2 separate regions of the Homo sapiens genome follow, and region 2 is linked to region 1. Evidence: fine-mapped expression QTL. A gene starts in region 1. The other region holds a variant in brackets. All regions are shown on one strand. Distances are between the middles of the regions.

Region 1 (9,162 bases):
TGAGCTCAGGAGTTCAAGACCAGCCTGACCAACATGGTGAAACCCCATCTCTACTAAAAGTACAAAAGTTAGCTGGGTGTGGTGGCACATGCCTGTAATCCCAGCTATTTGGGAGGCTGAGGCAGGAGAATCGCTTGAACCTGGGAGGCGGAGATTGCAGTGAGCCACTGTAATCCCAGCACTTTGGGAGGCCAAGGTGGGTGGAACACTTGAGCCCAGAGGTTTGAGACCAACCTGGGCAACACAGAGAGACCCAATCCCTACAAAAAAAAATTTAAATATATACATTTAAAAATTTTTAATTAAAAAAATATAAAATAAGGAAATAGAGGACATAATATATTACCTACAACTTATATCCTAATTAATAAAGGAGATTTCCCATTTTGTATGAGTAGATTTGTTTTTTTGAGATGGAGTCTCGCTCTGTTGCCCAGCTGGAGTGCAATGGTGCAATCTCAGCTCACTGCAACCTCTGCCTCCTGGGTTCAAGCAATTCTCCTGCCTCAGCCTCCCAAATAGCTGGGATTATAGGCACACAGTACCACGCCCGGCTAATTTTCATATTTTTAGTAGAGATGGGGTTTCACCATGTTGATCAGGCTAGTCTCAAACGTGTAGATTTTTATAACATATAAACATATATTTAAACAGAAATAAGCCAGGTGCAGTGGCTCACGCCTGTAATCCCAGCATTTTGGGAGGCCAAGGTGGGCAGATCACCTGAGGTCAGGTCAAGACCAGCCTGGCCAACATGGTGAAACCATCTCTACTAAAAATACAAAAATTAGCTGAGTGTGGTAGTGGGCGCCTGTAGTCCCAGCTACTTGGGAGGCTGAGGCAGGAGAATTGCTTGAACCTGGGAGGCGGAGGTTGTAGTAAGCCAAAATCGCGCCACTGTACTGTACAGCCTGGGCAACAGAGTGAGATTCCATCTCAAAAAAAAAAAAAAAAATTAAAGTGCCTCCATTTTAAAAAAGATAAGAAACAACAATCAGATACTTCTCAATGTTTAGCTGTTAACACTCTTCTGCATCTCAGTTGGGCTTTAAAAGCGAGATTGAGACATAAGACTTGTTCTTTCCCAGCATAACCAGATGTGTCCACGCCCTTCTGGATCCAAATAAAATGTAAAGTTATCTTCCTCAAGGAGCACACCATAGACAATGTGTCTTTTCAGAATGTCTTTCCTTACATTAGACAGATTGGGGTTTTTTTTGTTTTTGCGCGGGGGGACAGAATCTTGCTTTGTCGCCCAGGCTGGAGTGCAGTGGTGCGACCTCAGCTCACTGCAACCTCTACCTCCCAGGTTCAAGTGATTCTCCTGCCTCAGCCTCCCAAGTAGCTGGGATTACAGGCACCCACCACCACACCCGGCTAATTTTTGTATTTTTAGTAGAGATGGGGTTTCACAATGTTGGCCAGACTGGTCTCGAACTCCTGACCTCGGGTGACCCATCCTGTCCTCCCAAAGTGTTGGGATTACAGGCGTGAGCCACCATGCCCAACCTAGACAGATTGTTTTATAAGGGTTTAGAAAGAAAGGAAACTACATGAATGAGTACTTAGTCTCCTGCTCCTTGAAGTGGATGAATTGTTTTCTTTGGTTTCCAACACAGTCTGTTAAGAGTTGTAGCACGCCCCAAGAGTATGTGCATGTAGTGGAGCTGGGATGGGGAGGATTCCCAAGGGAATCTTTAGCTGTCACCCATGAACCATGCAGAGTGGAGAAGGACACTCAGCCTTTCTGTGGCTCTCACCTGCATGATTATTCTGGTGGCTGCAAAGGGCGATAGGCAGTAGGAGGAGACACCCCGTGACACCAAGAGCTGTGTCCAGACATGATCGTCTTGGCACAGCTTGAGGGTTTTCTACAGAAACTGGTAGAGATGCTAGACAGACACAAGATGCCAGCCAGCCTCCTTTGCGATTGGCTCTTAGAGGTGGAAAATGGTAAAGTCATCAGGCTCATTCTCCCTAGGACTAGAGGAACATGTTAATTATATTAAAGTAGATTAGTGGGCCGGGTGTGGTGGCTCACGCTTGTAATCCCAGCACTTTGGGAGGCCGAGGCGGGCGGATCATGAGGTCAGGAGATCAAGACCATCCTGGCTAACACGGTGAAACCCTGTCTCTACTAAGAATACAAAAAATTAGCTGGGCATGGTGGCGGGCGCCTGTAGTCCCAGCTGCTCGGGAGGCTGAGGCAGGAAAATGGCGTGAACCCAGGAGGTGGAGTTTGCAGTGAGCCGAGATCGCACCACTGCACTCCAGCTTGGGCAACAGTGTGAGACTCCGTCTCAAAAAAAAAAAAAAATGCAGATTAGAACGATTAAAATGATTACTGGTGATTACTGGTACTATTGCTGCAATAGTAAAAATACATCTTTTTCACCAATGTCTTTGTTTTTTTTTAAAATGTTCCACCGTCTTCTGACCATCATGGTTTATTTTTATTTTTATTTTATTTATTTATTTATTTTTTTAAGACACAGTCTCGCTGTCACCCAGGCTGGAGTGCAGTGGCTCGATCTCGGCTCACTGCAGCCTCTGCCTCCCAGGTTCAAGCGATTCTCCTGCCTCAGCCTCCTGAGTAGCTGGGACTACAGGCGCATGCCACCACATCTGGCTAATTTTTGTATTTTTGTAGAGACAGGGTTTTACCATGTTGGCCAGGATGGTCTCGATCTCCTGACCTCATGATCCGCCTGCCTCAGCCTTCCAAAGTGCTGGGATTACAGGCATGAGCCACCGTGCCCGGCCTCACCAATGTCTTTCACTCATGTATCTTTCTCCATGGACTTCACTTATTTATATATGGCATTTCATTCAACATGCAACAAACATTTATTAAGCAGCTACTGTGTGCCTAGTGCTGGGGGTACAGCTGTGAATACCATCAATATGGGGCTAGATGTGGTGGCTCACACCTGTAATCCCGGGGCTTTTTTTTTTTTTGAGATGGAGTTTCGCTCTTGTTGCCCAGGCTGGAGTGCAATGGCAAGATCTCAGCTCACCGCAACCTCTGCCTCCCGGGTTCAAACGACTCTCCTGCCTCAGCCTCCCAAGTAGCTGGGATTGCAGACGTGCGCCACCACACCCGGCTAATTTTGTATTTTTAGTAGAGACGGGGTTTCTCCATGTTGGTCAGGTCTCAAACTCCCAATCTCAGGTGATCTGCCTGCCTCGGTCTCCCAAATCACTGGGATTACCGGCGTGAGCCACCATGCCCAGCCCTATCCCAGTGCTTTAGGAGGCGGAGGTGGGAGGATCACTTGAGGCCAGGAGTTTGCCTGGGCAACATAGTGAGAGCTCATCTCTACAAAAAAATTCAAAATTAGCCAGGTGTGGTGGCAGGTGCCTGTAGTCCTAGCTACTCAGGAGGCTGAGGTGGGAGGATTGCTTTAGCCTAGGAGGTCGAGGTTGCAATGAGCTATGATTGTGCCATTGCACTGCAGCCTGGGTGACAGAGCAAGACCCTGCCTCTTAAAAGAAAAAAAAAAAAAAAAAAAAAGCCCTGGCCAGGCGTGGTGGCTCATGCCTGTAATCCCAGCACTTTGGGAGGCCAAGGCTGGCGGATCACAAGGTCAGGAGTTCAAGATCAGCCTGGCCAATATGGTGAAACCCCGTGTCTACTAAAAATACAAAAATCAGCGGGGCATGGTGGCGGGCACCTGTAGTCCCAGTAACTTGGGGGGCTGAGTCAGGAAAATTGCTTGAACCTGGGAGGCAGAGGTTGCAGTGAGCTGTGACAGCACCACTGCACTCCAGCCCTCCAGCCTGGGCGACAGAGCAAGACTCTGTCTTTAAAAAAAAAAAAAAAAAAGAAAAGCCCTTGCTGTATAGAATCCCTTAGGTTATGGATGGGGAGGAGGGCAGGGGTTTAGGAGGGGAGAAGCGGAAGGAGGAACAAAATAAAGAAGAGACAATTAGTTGGAGAGTGATAAATACCATAATGATATCATGGAACTAGGCTTACCAGATCAAACACTGGGCACCCAGTTCAATGTGAATTTCAGATAAGCAATGCATGATTTTTAAGTATAAATATGTCCTACACAGTATTTATACTAGAAAATTATAAATTTTTTTCTAAAATTTACATTGACCTGGGCAGCCTGCATTTTATTTGCTAAACCTGGCAACCCTAATTTGTGTGCTGGGTGGTGGTGAGTGGGCAATTTCAGATAGGCCTCTTTTGTGGAGGTGACATTTGAGCTGGAACCTAAATGTAAAGAAGGAGCCAATCATTCAGGAATCTAGAACATCCCAGCACAGGGAACAGCAAGTATAAATGCTCTAAAGTGGAAATAAGCTTGGAGCTTAGAGGAACAGGAAGAAGGTGGGGTGGCGGAGCTGAGTGAGGGTGAGGAGAGGAGGGAAGCGGAAGGTGATGAGGGCAGGCAGGCTGGCAGGGGCCAGATCCCATATGGTTTGTGGGCTGTAATAAGAGTACCAAAACTTACATACCAGGCCAGGCGCGGTGGCTCACGCCTGGAATCCCAGCATTTTGGGAGGCCAAGGTGTGCGGATCACTTGAGGCCAGGAGTTCGAGACCTGTCTGGCCGTGTCTCCCTCTAAAATAGAAGCTCCAAGAGGGGCAGGAAGTTCTCTTCCGTCTTAGACCCTATGTGCACGACCTTGGATCGATCAACATTGAACACCTCCTACGTGCCAAGCCCTGACATCAAAATGGGTCAGAAGCCAGCAGCCGCTCGCTGAATCTGTGTTCCTCTTTGGAAAACGAGAACCGTGAAGCCTGCTGGCATGGTCAGAGCCAAAGAGCATTGTCACTTGTGAGATCAGCGCAGAAACAGAGCGGGGCCCCGATTGGCCCTTCGAACTTGGGTGGGGCCAGAGCATTCCTGGCCCCGCCCCCTGCAGCGGGCCGCTCGCTCATGCGCTCTGGCCTCAGGCTCGCTGTCGCGCCATTTTGCCGGGGTTTGAATGTGAGGCGGAGCGGCGGCAGGAGCGGGTAGTGCCAGCTACGGTCCGCGGCTGGGGTTCCCTCCTCCGTTTCTGTATCCCCACGAGGTGAGGCGCGGGGCGTGCACGGCCTACCAGAGTGGCTCTTGGGGCCCAGCTGAGGAAGGGATGAGGCGCTCCCGGTACTAACGAGCGCTAGGGAGTGAGAACCGCGCCTCTGGGCGAGAGCGGAATGTGGGCCCGGGGTTCGGGTGGTGCGCTCAGGCAAGGTCTTCGGCTTCCCTAGGGAGCGCTTGCCGCGCCTCGCGGCATCCTAGGTCTCTGGCCCAGGTGCGGCGACCCCAGGGCCTGTGAGGGCTGAGGGCAACTGAGGCGCGGCCTAACGCGAGCCTGCGGATTGCCCGCCCTTTCCTCTCCATCACGGCGCTGATTGGCTGCGCCGCCGCCTCTCCGCTCGGGAAGGCCGCTCCTTATTGGTCGCGCTCGCATGTCCATTCTCTGCGACGGTGGCTGCTAGCCGCGCGAGCTGAGTGTGCGGCGGCGAGGCCTGCCCGGGCGGGGACTGCGGGCGCGTGGAGCTGCGGCTGCCTCGCGTCGTCCCTTGCCCTAACTCTAGTGAAGCCCCCGAACTCACCCTTCTCTAACCTCTGTACTTGTATCCCTGACTGTAAAACGGGCATCGTGATCTCACTTTGCTGAATTGTTTGTGAGAATTCTAGTCGGTACACCCGGGACATAGAAATCCCCTGTAACGCGGGTTGGGGGAGGGTTCCCTCGTTTTGGGAGAAACGCTGTGCTGTGGTGGTTCGGAGCATAGACTTTGGAATTAGATCGCCTGGGTTCATTCCAGACGTAGCCTCTCGTTAGGGGTGTAACTTGAGGCTGGTCACCTCATCTCACTGAGCCTCCATTTCCTTAGCTGCAAAATGGGGTTAATAACAGAATCTACCTCGGAAAGTGGCTTTGAGGATGCGCTGAGTTATTTACCGTGGTTTACAAAGGTTCCCTGGGAGCTGACGGTTGTTTATTCATCTCTCCCACCCATCTTTCTCCTTAGCCAGTGTGGCTTTCTGTTTCTTCCATATTCCAGGGTTATTCCGATTTAAAATTATTTGCACATGCCTTTTGTTTGCTGGGGAAGTACCAACATTTTTGCAAGGCAGGCCGCCTCTCCCAAGTTTCCCTCACCTTAGGCCTCCCCTAACCAACCTCTTCTTTTGTTTTCTTTTTCTTTTTCTTTTCTCTTTTCTTTTTTTTTTTTTTTTTTTTTTTTTTTTGAGAGAGAGAGTCTCGCTCTGCCTCCCAGGCTGGAGTGCAGTGGCGCGATCTCGACTCACTGCAACCTCCGCCTCCCGGATTCAAGCGATTCTCCTGCCTCAGCCTCCCGAATAGCTGAGACTACAGGTCTGAGACTACACGCCACCACACCCGGCTAATTTTTGTATTTTTATTAGAGACGGGGTTTCACCATGTTGATCAGGCTGTCTAATCAACCTGTCTAGGACCTTTCTCCCATGGCTCTCCATCAACATCACCTGGTTTTAGTTACTTCATAGCATTTACTAACACTTACTTATTGCTTACTTGTTATCTTTCTCAACTGCTAGAATGTAAGCTGTTTGAGAGCAAGGACCTTGTCTGTCTTGCTTACTTCTCTCTCCCTGGTGGGTGCCATCCCACCTGTGCTTGCCACATGGTAGATGCACAAGTATTATTCTTCCTTGGAGGCACAGAAGGGGACCCTTTAGTCTTGGATTCCACCAATTGCTCTTTTTCTCACCTTGGGCCCACATAGTCATATCTTTGGCCTTTCTCTGTGTGTGTCTCTCTCTTTTTTTTTTTTTTTTTTGACATGCTTTCAGAGGATCCTAATGGACCTCGTCTCTCCGCTCCTACAACCCTTTATCTTTCACTTCTTACCATCAGTGCAAGGGAAGTCTCTCTCCCCTTCTGATTACTTCTGCTGGTTGGGGTCTGGGACAGGATTGGATGGATGCAAGAGCAGTGCTCTAGTTTTGGAATTAATTTGTTTCTTTATTCATTTAATAACTTTATTGAGCATCCACTTAATCTCTGGGAATATAGTGAAAAAACAAAAATGGACAAGGTCCCTTCCCTTGAGGACCATGTATTCTCGTGGGCGAAAGAAAAAACATTAGATAATTTCAGATAGTGACAGAATTATGTGACAGGTGAAGAAGGCTTTTCTGAGGAGGTGACATTTGGGTAGAGACCAGCCATTAAAAGGTGAGGGGCAGAACATTCCAGGTAGAGGGAATAGAAGGCTCAAGGCTCAAGGACAGGAACCGGCTTGGAATATTGAAATATTTAAGGAATATCTTAGGTTCCTAGAGTGTTACATGAAGAAGGGAGAAATATCCAGGACCCGGATCATAGAAGGCTTTGTAGGCAATGTAAGGAGTTTGGATTTGATTCTAAGTGGTATATTCCTATGGTTAGAAAGCAGAGGGTAGGTTGAGGTGTTGGGATATGTTCTTCATGTGTGGGTGCCAGATAGTTTTCATTCATTGGATCTCTTTCCCTCTTCCCAAATGTAAGGCCTCGGGAATGGTTCTCTAATGTGTTGAGGACATATCTAAGAAAAAGGCAGACATCTTGGATCAGCTTATGTCACAGATGTCTGTGAGATGGCTTTGGAAAACAAAGCTTTTATTCCAGAAATCTCCACCTGTAATTGAGGGCCTGTGGGAAGATGCTAGACTTAGGTCTGGCCATTCATTCAACAAGAAGAACTTGGAAATTTAGATGTCTGCCATAACTGATTTATTGTGATGCTTTTTTAAGTTTCTTAATTGTGTATTGGTAGAGATTTCCAAAGATAGTTACGTGGAGAAAGAAAAGTATCACCCCCTCATTTAAAGGTGATAAAAATGAATTCTTATCTTCTCCCTCCCTTTTTTTTTTGGAGACACCATCTCACTGTGTTGCCTGGGCTGACCTGGGCTCAGTCTATCCTCCTACCTCAGCCTCCCGAGTAGCTAGGACTACAGGCGTGCACCACCACACTCAACTAATTTTTATTTTTTTTTTGTAGAGATGGCACCATGTTGCCCAGGTTGGTCTCAAACTCCTGGACTCAACCAATCTGCTTACCTTGGCCCCCCAAAGAGCTGGGATTACAGGCATGAGCCACCCTACTTGGCCAAAATGAATGTTTTGTTTCTAGTTTGAGTCATTTTTAGATCAGTAACACTTTTTGCATTTATATATTGCTAATATTTCAGAGTGTCAAAGTACCTTTACTTGTGGTTGCATAAGATAATTAGAGCTTGATCTTGTTGATAATTATGAATACCTGTAAAATGTTCTCTAAAAGTCCCTGATTTCTCTTATTTTCTCAAATTAAGGATAAGCTTAGAATTCGGTTTTATAGACTATATCTGCAAGGCGATATAAAAAGGATTTGTTGACAAATAGTTCCTTAAAGAATATTCCCAAAGAATAAACTTTGGAAGGCCAAGGTGGGCGGATCACTTGAGCTCAGGAGTTCCAGACCAGCCTGGGCAACACTGGAACCATGTCTACAGAAACAACACAAAAATTAGCCAGGTGTGGTGGTGTGTGCCTGTAGTCCCAGCTACTTGGGAGGTTGAAGTAGGAGGATGGCTTGAGCCCAGGAGGCAGAGGTTTCAGTGGGCCAGAATTACACCACTGCATTTCTCCAGCCTAGGTAACAGACCCAGACCCTGTCTCAAAAAAGAGTATTAAGATTCTGGGATCTATGTAGTATTTTAACTTTGAGGGATTATAACATGCATATTTATATAACCCCTCACTTTTTTTTAAACTTAAAAATAGTCCTACCCTAGCATCTCAACTTAATCATTTTAGGTTTCATTCTATTATGTGGTTTTATTTATTTATTTTTATTTTATTTTATTTTATTTTATTTTATTTTTGGAGACAGGGTTTCACTCAGTCACCCATACTGGACTGCAGTGGCAAGACCTCAGCTTATTGCAGCCTAGACCTCCCGGGCTCAAGCAATCCTCCTGCCTCAACTTCCCTAGTAGCTAGGACCACAGGAGGGTATCACCAAGCCCAGCTAATTTTTTTTTTTTTTTTTTTTTTTTTTTGAGATGGGAGTTTCACTTTTGTTGCCCAGGCTAGAGCTAGAGTGCAATGGTGCAGTCTTGGCTCATTGAAACCTCTGCCTCCCGGGTTCAAGCAATTCTCCTGTCTCAGCCTCCTGAGTAGCTGGGATTACAGGCGCAT
Region 2 (9,162 bases), 59 kb before region 1:
GCTTGGAGAAGTTTGTTATTAGTGACTTTCTGAAGCCTACTTCTGTCAGCTTGTCAAAGTCATTTCCATCCATCTTTGTTCTGTTGCTGGGGAGGAGCTGCAATCCTTTGGAGGAAAAGAGGTGCTCTGGTTTTTAGAATTTTCAGCTTTTCTGCTCTGGTGTCTCCCCATCTTTGTGGTTTTATCTATCTTTGGTCTTTGATGCTGGTGACCTACAGATGGGGTTTTGGTGTGGATGTCATTTTATTTGTTGATGTTGCTATTCCTTTCTGTTTGTAGCTTTCCTTCTAACAGTCAGGTCCCTCAGCTGCAGGTCTGTGGGAGTTTGCTGGAGGTCCACTCCAGACCCTGTTTGCCTGGGTATCACCAGCAGAGGCTGCAGAACAGCAAATATTGCAGAACAGCAAATATTGCTGCCTGATCCTTCCTCTGGAAGCATCGTCCCAGAGGGGCACCCGCCTGTATGAGGTGTCAGTCGGCCCTTTCTGGGAGGTGTCTCCCAGTTAGGCTACATGGGGGTCAGGGTCCCACTTGAGGAGGCAGGCTGTTCTCAGAGCTCAAACACCATGCTGGGAGAACCACTGCTGAGAGCTGTCAGACAGGGATGTTTAAGTCTGCAGAAGTTTCTGCTGCCTTTTGTTCAGCTATGCCCTGCCCCCAGAGGTAGGGTCTATAGAGGCAGCAGCCCTTGCAGAGCTGTGGTGGGCTCTGCCCAGTTCGAGCTTCACCAGCACTTTGTTTACCTACTCAAGCCTCAGCAATGGCAGACACCCCTCCCCCTGCCAGGCTGCTGCCTCACAGGTCAATCTCAGACTGCTGAGCCAGCAGTGAGCAAGGCTCCGTGGGCGTGGGACCTGCTGAGCCAGGCACAGGATATAATCTCCTGGTGTGCCATTTGCTAAGACCATTGGAGAAGTGCAGTATTTGGGCAGGAGTGTCCCGATTTTCCAGGTACAGTCTGTCATGGCTTCCCTTGGCTAGGAATGGAAAATCCTCCGACCCCTTACGCTTCCCGGGTAAAGCGATGCCCCGCCCTGCTTCAGCTCACCCTACGTGGGCTGCACCCACTGTCCAACCAGTCCCAGTGAGATGAACCAGGTACCTCAGTTGGAAATGCAGAAATCACCGTCTTCTGCGTCGATCACACTGGGAGCTGCAGACCGGAGCTGTTCCTATTTGGCCATCTTGGGACGGAATCTTACTTGTTTTATTTACGTATATATTTTTCTGAACCATTTTGAAAGTAATTGGTAGCCATCATGAGACCTTAACTGAATCTCTTTGAAAAATAAAGGACATTCTCCCATATAACCACAGCACCATCATCACAATCATTGGCAAATCTTTATGTTTCTTTCCAGTCTTTTACACACATCAACACATACACAATCATATATTCCAACTTGTAAATGATTAGTTAACTTAGTAAGTTCAACTTAAGAGTTGAAATTACAGTACTCACTTATTAACTGACATGTTTGATCTTCTCATTTCTACTGCCGCCACTCCACCTCCCTCTAGTGTATTCTGCCCACAGCAGCTAAAGTAATCTTTTTAAAACATAAATCAAGTCTTATCACTCTCCTGCCTAAATCATTCCAGGTTTCCTGTTCTGCACCATGGCCTGACCCAGCCCCTGGCCTCCCTTGCTGATCTCATCTCCTGCCAATTCCCCTGAGTCACACAATGTATTTTCAGTCCCTTGAACACCTTCAGCTCTTTTTACCATGGTGCCTTGTGCTTGAAATTCTCTTGGCTTTTTTCCATCCCTCAGACTTGGTAAAACATCTCTTACTCAAAGAGGCCTTCAGCAACTGCACTATCTAAACAGGTCCCAAGTTAAGTTCTGCCCTTGCCCCTATTTGTATCTTTCATGACGCTTGCCAGTTTGTGCTTACTCATGAATATCACCCTCCAGCTCAGGCCTGGTAAATAATAAGTTGAGTCTATACATTGGTTAGCTTTGCCTTCCTTTAGCAGGAAATAAAAAATGGGCTGGGCATGGTGGCTCATGCCCGTTATCCCAGCACGTTGGGAGGCTAAGGTGGGAGGATCACTTGGAGTTCCAGACCAGCCTGGTCAACACAGTGAGACCCTGTCTCTTAAAAAAAAAAAAAAGTAGAGAAAGAAAAAAATAAATACAAAATAACATGCTTAACTATGTATTTCTCTCTCAAGGAAATCCAAAAGTGGACAGTCTAAGGCTGCTACGGTGGCCCTTAAGGACATCAGAGATCCAGGCTCCTTTTATCTGTCTGCTTCACCATACTTAGCCAGAGAGGGTGGCCTCATGGTATAAGATGACTGCTGGAGTACCAGCCATCCCACAAACATTCTGGAGAGGAGGAGGGAAAGAACAAAAAGAGAAAAAAGCAGACTTCCCACCTGAGTCAGCTTTGTTTAAGGGTCCTTCCTAGAAGTACCCACACCACTTCTGCTCATATCTCACTGGCTAGAAGTTTATCACATGGCCATCCTTTATTTAAGGGAGGCAGGGAAATGTTCTTTTTATTCCACATGGCAGTGTGTCCAGCTAACACGTAGGGTTCTATTAGTGTTGGAGAAGGGGAGAGTGGATATGAGGTGACAATCAGCAGACTCTGACCAGGTATAGCTGGGTCAGAAATTGAAGGTGGAATTTAGAAAAGCTGCCAGGACAGACATGACCTTGCTAGCTTATACGTGATGGCATGTTCATAGTATTCTATTATTATTTATCTCAAATACCAGCTTTTGCTATCCTCCAGATTTTGAAATAAGCAACTTGTGTCCCATCTCTGCTTGAAACAGGTTCAACAAGAAACCCAAGAGGGGGATCCAGTTTCTCCAGGAGCAGGGCATGCTGGGAACGTCAGTTGAAGACATAGCCCAATTCCTGCACCAGGAGGAGCGCCTGGATTCCGTAAGGCTTGGGGGTGTAGCACTTGCATGTGAGTTCTGTCAGGTGATTGTGAGCCCTTACCAGTTTTAACCTCGAGATTGTCTGGCCCTAAGTACATTGTCTGTTGTCCACCCCCGGGTTATACATTGTCTATTGTCCACCCCCGGGTTACAGCAGTCCTGTGTATCCCGTTGGCTAGTGTTGCAGAAAGCTCTTTGATGGGAATAAACTAGCCTCCCAGCAGGTGGCTGCATATTTGCTGGAAGAGAGTCAGAGCTGGAAGTGTTCCTTGACTGCTAGAAAGTTCTTACGGCTGCCTGTCTGCAACTAACCTCCTTAGTGTGCCCCGTCATTCTCTCCATTTTAAGTCTCTTGTGCCCCCTCCTCTTCCTTCATCCATGCAGGACAGGCTGCTTCTGGAATGGGTGGGTGGGTGGGCAGGTCAGGGAGTTCCCTAGCTTTTTTACCAGTCCAGCCTATTCTGGGCAGTTAGGGCCAGGCTATTCTGACTCCACCCTTTGGCTGCTGGCTTTTGCTGAGGGTTCGTATTTGACAATTTCTGGATATAAGTGAGTGTGTATGTTTCAGACCCAAGTAGGCGATTTTCTGGGAGATAGCGCAAGGTTCAACAAGGAGGTGATGTATGCCTACGTGGACCAACTTGACTTCTGTGAAAAAGAATTTGTCTCAGCCCTGCGGACATTCCTAGAAGGTTTCCGCCTACCTGGAGAAGCCCAAAAGATTGACCGATTAATGGAGAAGTTTGCCGCAAGATACATAGAATGCAACCAAGGGTGAGCGCCGATTTTGAGTCCCTTCCAGATCATCTGTTTGCCTGCCTCAGAACGCTAATTCTAATTTGGTTGGGGTTTAATCTTTGTATATCTGTGCCAAGCAACTGAAGCTTTTGTTTACCGTGTGCCAGGCACTGTGCTAAGGGATTATTTCACATAAGACCTCACAGCAACCTGTTTATGTCCCTATTCTACAGACAAAAAGATTGAGGACCAGAGAGGTTAACTTGCCCAAGATCACACAGCTAAAGCCCATGCTGTTAGCAACTATAAAAGAGTAGTTTCATAAGTTGAGAGGAGACAATTGGGCACCTCTTCCCTAATCAAAAACAGTTCCCCTGATTTAATATATGGGGTAGATCTCAAGGATTTTGGTTTTTCTTTAATTGCATACTGATGAGCAGGTTACAGAAATAGCTACATAACTAATAAAAACCACCAAAGTACATGATTTTATCTGGGGACCTTTTTTGATGGGCGGTTCGTGATTTTGTAAGAAGTGGAAATAGGAAGGGGAACAAACCATTATTAAATACCTCCTGTGTGTGGGCCATGCCATGGGTTTTACATGCATTTAATTTAATTAATGGCAAGCCCAGGAATAGTATCCCTGTTTTACAGATGAGGAAATTGAGAATCTGAGAGATTGAGCAACCTGTCCAAAATTAATCAGCTAGTAAGGAGCAGAGCCAGGGTTGAATATGGATTTCTCTAACTCAGAAGCTCATGTTCGGGCTGGATGCAGTAGCTCTTGCCTGTAATCCCAGCACTTTGGGAGGCCGGGACGGGCAGATCACTTGGGGTCAGGAGTTCGAGACCAGCCTGGCCAATATGGTGAAATCCCGTCTCTTCCAAAAATACAAAAAAAAATTAGCTGGGTAATCCCAGCTGCTCAGAGGCTGAGGCAGGAGAATTGCTTCAACCTGGGAGGCAGAGGCTACAGTGAGCCGAGACCACACCACTGCACACCAGCCTGGATGACAGAGGCAGACTCTGTCTCAAAAAAAAAAACTCATGTTCTCTCCACTGAACATTAAATTAGAAATATGTCTGAATATGCTGTGACCATGATGTGGAAATTGTTCAGTGG[A/G]AACTATTTTTTTTGAGACAGGGTCTTGCTCTCTTGCCCAGGTTGAAGTACAGTGGGGTGATCACAGATCACTGCAGCCTGGATCTCCTGGGCTCAATCAGTCCTCCCACCTCAGCCTCCTGAACTGCTGGGACTACAGGTGCATGCCACTGTGCCTGGCTAATTTTTTGTATAATATTTCTGCAGAGATAGAGTTTCACCGTGTTGCCCAGTCTGGTCTTGAACTCCTAGCCTCAAGGGATCCTCCTGCCTCAGCCTCCCAAAGTGGGGGATTTACAAATGTGAGCTACCACACCTGATTGAAACATTTTAATAACTGTTTTGCCTCTCAGGTCAACTTTGTTTTCATATTAATTGCTCCCAGTCTTCCAAGTGTATGGCAGGCTGTCCCCAGGAGGTGGCAGGATTGGCAAAGGCAGCATATCATCATTTTAACCAAATGGACATTAGAACTCTCTATGAAGGCATAATTAGATGCTGTTTACTTTAAACGTATCTCCTATGTGGACCTGGGAGCCTTGGTCTGTTTTGCTCAGTCAGTAAATATGTGACCCAGTTTCATCTCATATTAAAAGACCTTTGTTGTGTTCTTCAAAATTTCTACTGTTCCTGTTATGGACAGTTTGGACAGAACAGTTTCTAGCTTCAGCCTCATATCGTATGAAGCTGTACATCCACATGTTGTCCTTCTCTTCTTGCCTAAGGCAAAAAAGTCAGACTTCACCAACATATTGTTTAGAACAACATAAATATTTTCCATGGTATTTCTACTATTAAATGTTATAATGGGTAATATAGACTATAAATAACAGCTAAACAGCAGTTTTAGTCATCTTTATATCTCATGTCTAGCACAGTACATGGCACAAAATAGATGTTCTCAGGAACAGGACAAGGTGGGGGAGGCACTCAAGCGCTTAGTGTGTGAAATATAGTGAGATGCCCTCTCTCAGGGTCAGCACCAAGTGTAAGGTCTCCTGATGTGCTCACTTGCTTCACCCTAGTCTTGGCCCCAGATGCTTCTTAGAGTCTTTTTAAAAAAAATTATTTGAAATTGCTTTATTCAAAGAAGCCTCAATTTTTATTATTTATTTATTTATTTTTGAGACAGTCTCGCTCTGTCACCCAGGCTGGAGTGCAGTGTCACAATCTCAGCTCACTGCAACCTCCACCTCCCGGGTTCAGGCAATTCTCCTGCCTCAGTCTCCCGAATAGCTGGGATTATGGGCACCCGCTGCCACGCCCAGCTAATTTTTGTATTTTTAGTAGAGATTGGGTTTCACCATGTTGGCCAGGCTGGTCTCGAACTCCTGACCTCAGGTGATCCACCCATCTCGGCCTCCCAAAGTGCTGGGATTACAGGCCTGAGCCACCACGCCCTGCCAAAGAAGCTAAAATTTGATACAGATTGTTAATGAGCTTTTTCTACACTCTGGGTTGCTAAGTCTTGTTCAGTGATGATGAAAGCGTAAAAACTCTTGCCTCATTTGGAATCAAGGGGAGTAGTCGGCTGCTTTTCTCGTGAAGTGTGTCTCTGTTAGCATTGTACCTTCCAAACCGCATCACCATGAATATTGATGTCTCGAATTTTTTTCTCCAGGCAAACTCTGTTTGCTAGTGCTGACACTGCTTATGTCCTAGCGTATTCAATTATTATGCTGACTACAGACTTGCACAGTCCTCAGGTAAAGCACTTTAATGATTTACATGTTGTATTAGCTAAATAAGTGGCTTTACTTGGGCAATTGGATGTTTTTTAAATGGTTTTTAATTTTTTTTAATTACAGGTAAAAAATAAAATGACGAAAGAGCAGTATATTAAAATGAATCGGGGTATCAATGATAGTAAAGATCTGCCAGAAGAGTATCTCTCAAGCATCTATGAAGAGATAGAAGGCAAGAAAATTGCAATGAAAGAAACAAAAGAGCTAACGATTGCAACCAAATCTACTAAGCAGAGTAAGGTCTAATGGCAAATTATTTCTTTTAGTTCTAATTTTTTAGTGTATCAGAATGCATGATTAAATACTCTGGTGATAAATTTAATGTGCATAGCTGGATATCTGAATAGGAAATGTGATTGAATTAATTATTGTGATTATGTTGGGACTTTTATAATGTCACTGTCTTGCTAGATTTCTGATGAGGAGCAAGAAGGAATTTAAAATTAGTAATCTGAGAACTAAATTACTCCCAAAAAGTGTTCTTTAAAACTTTTCTTTAATTCAGATTGTGTCCGCCTTGATTAGAATTCTATTAGTTATGGCCCCTGGGGAGCTGTCAGTTTCACTGTTTGAGAAGCAGCAAAGGGTAGTGGTTTAGAGTGTGGCTCTAGAGCCACACTGCCTTAGATCAAGTCCCAGCTCCTCTACTTAGTAATTGTATGACCCTGGGCAAGTGACTTACCCCCTCTGCCTCATTTTTCCCATCTGTAAAATGGTAATAATAATATTTGTAATGGACTCACGAGATGGTTGGGAGGATTTAGGAGTTAATCATTGTGCATCTTTTGAAACAGTGTATGGCATGTAGCCAGCCCTCAGTGACTGCTAGCCACACCTATCATGCTCTTACTTTACAGATGTAGCTAGTGAAAAGCAGCGGCGGCTGCTGTACAACTTAGAGATGGAGCAAATGGCTAAAACAGCCAAAGCTCTGATGGAGGCTGTGAGCCATGCCAAAGCCCCGTTTACCAGTGCCACTCACCTGGACCATGTCCGGCCAATGTTCAAAGTGAGTATCCTGAGAACTTAGCAAGCATGTGGCTAAGCCTGATTCTGAAGCTGGCCAGCGAGAAGTACTCTTTCCACGCTAAAACTCTGGATGTTATTGAAATCTTCCTTCCATGATAGCTGGTGTGGACGCCACTATTGGCAGCCTACAGCATCGGACTCCAGAACTGTGATGACACTGAAGTGGCCTCCTTGTGTTTGGAAGGCATCCGATGTGCAATCCGAATCGCCTGCATCTTTGGAATGCAGGTAGGTGTAAGTCAGCAACACTCCAGAGATACTGGTGGGTTGTGCTCTTTTAGATTTGGCAAAACTTAGAAATTATCAGAAATTTTCAGTTAATCAAGACTCTTAGCAAGCTACTTACTTATGCCTACTGACAAGAAATCCGTAGCTTTGTGATGACAGCTCGTTAGGGGCAAAAATGGAGATACGGATTAAAACTGTCTTTAAGAATGGGTAGGCTGGGCACAGTGGCTCACGCCTGTAATCCCAGCACTTTGGGAGGCCAAGGCAGGCAGATCACCTGAAGTTGGGAGTTCGAGACCAGCCTAACCAACATGGAGAAACCCCATCTCTACTAAAAATATAAAATTAGCCGGGTGTGGTGGTACATGCCTATAATCCCAGCTACTCGGGAGGCTGAGGCAGGAGACCGGCTTGAACCCAGGAGGTGGAGGTTGCGGTGAGCCGAGATCGCGCCATTTTACTCCAGCCTGGGTGACAAGAACGAAACTCCATCTCAAAGAAAATAATAATAATAATAATAGGTAGGGTCCAAGCTTCTTGACTGGATTTGACAAAGCAGACTTCGTGTTCATCTGCCTAACTTGCCTGCTTTGGTGCTTAAAAATACTATTTCCTTTTTAACATCAGTTTTTATTATAATTTCGCATATTTCCAACTCTTCCCTGGAGAAACAAGTAGTTCAATGCAATATGAATATGTCTGTAAACCTTTGAAACTTGAAAAGTTCAAGCAAATAAATGAAATGTAATTCTGAAACTGTTACGAAATTAGGAGGTTGACAATCCCATGCATCACTTTGTAAGTCAGAAGTTGCACCCCATTTATTTTTAAAAACTCAATCTTCTGTTCCTATTCATTTTACAGTTAGACATTTTCTTTTATACCAAGACCACAAGCTTTGACGTTAGACCATCTAGGTTTCAAGACCCCACTCTGCCACCTCTCCAACCATGTGACATTGGCTCAGCTAAAGTCTCTCTGAGACACCAATTCATTTCCTCATTTGTAAACTTGAGAAAACAGACCTGCCTGGCAGAATTGTTGCAGATGTCAATTTGTGTGACAGTCTTAGTATTCAACAGACATAGTGGAACATGGGACAGGTGAGTTTGACTGAAGTCAATTAGAAAGGAGAGAGCTGCTTCTCAAACATGTGGCAGTGCATAGATACCTCTGCAAGATGTTCCAAAAGCAAGAGGGCATTAGCATGGAATAACTGTTGTGCTAATGTGCAGAAAGCCAGTCAATGTGCATACAAAAAGTATCAGAGAAGCCCAGTGTGCCAGCCCTGCAGATGTGAGAATGGCCACACTAAGGTTGGAGTCACAGTGTTCTCTCTTGGGTTTCTGTTACAGCTGGAACGAGATGCCTATGTTCAGGCTCTTGCTCGCTTCTCCCTACTCACAGCCAGCTCCA

Evidence for each region. PIP is the estimated chance that this variant, and not a neighbour inherited with it, causes the effect. A credible set is the group of variants that fine-mapping cannot tell apart.
Region 2: its variant is the best candidate, but not a certain one, in a credible set for the expression of CSE1L in whole blood (INTERVAL, PIP 0.81).

The regions. Positions count from the first base shown.
Region 1 is chr20:49,041,390-49,050,551 of GRCh38, forward strand. CSE1L (chromosome segregation 1 like) reads left to right here and starts at 4,923. Exons shown (of 25, transcript NM_001316.4): 1 at 4,923-5,034. It overlaps CSE1L-DT (CSE1L divergent transcript), which reads right to left and starts at 4,667. Exons shown (of 2, transcript NR_110625.1): 1 at 4,471-4,667. RefSeq lists enhancers at 4,546-4,695, 5,246-5,315, 5,281-5,921.
Region 2 is chr20:48,981,939-48,991,100 of GRCh38, forward strand. It overlaps ARFGEF2 (ARF guanine nucleotide exchange factor 2), which reads left to right. Exons shown (of 39, transcript NM_006420.3): 15 at 2,791-2,902; 16 at 3,470-3,675; 17 at 6,366-6,450; 18 at 6,553-6,724; 19 at 7,347-7,498; 20 at 7,618-7,746; 21 at 9,102-9,162. Among named protein-coding and RNA genes, the nearest start is that of CSE1L-DT, 60 kb to the right of the region's middle. The variant A/G (reference allele first, on the strand shown) is at 4,766.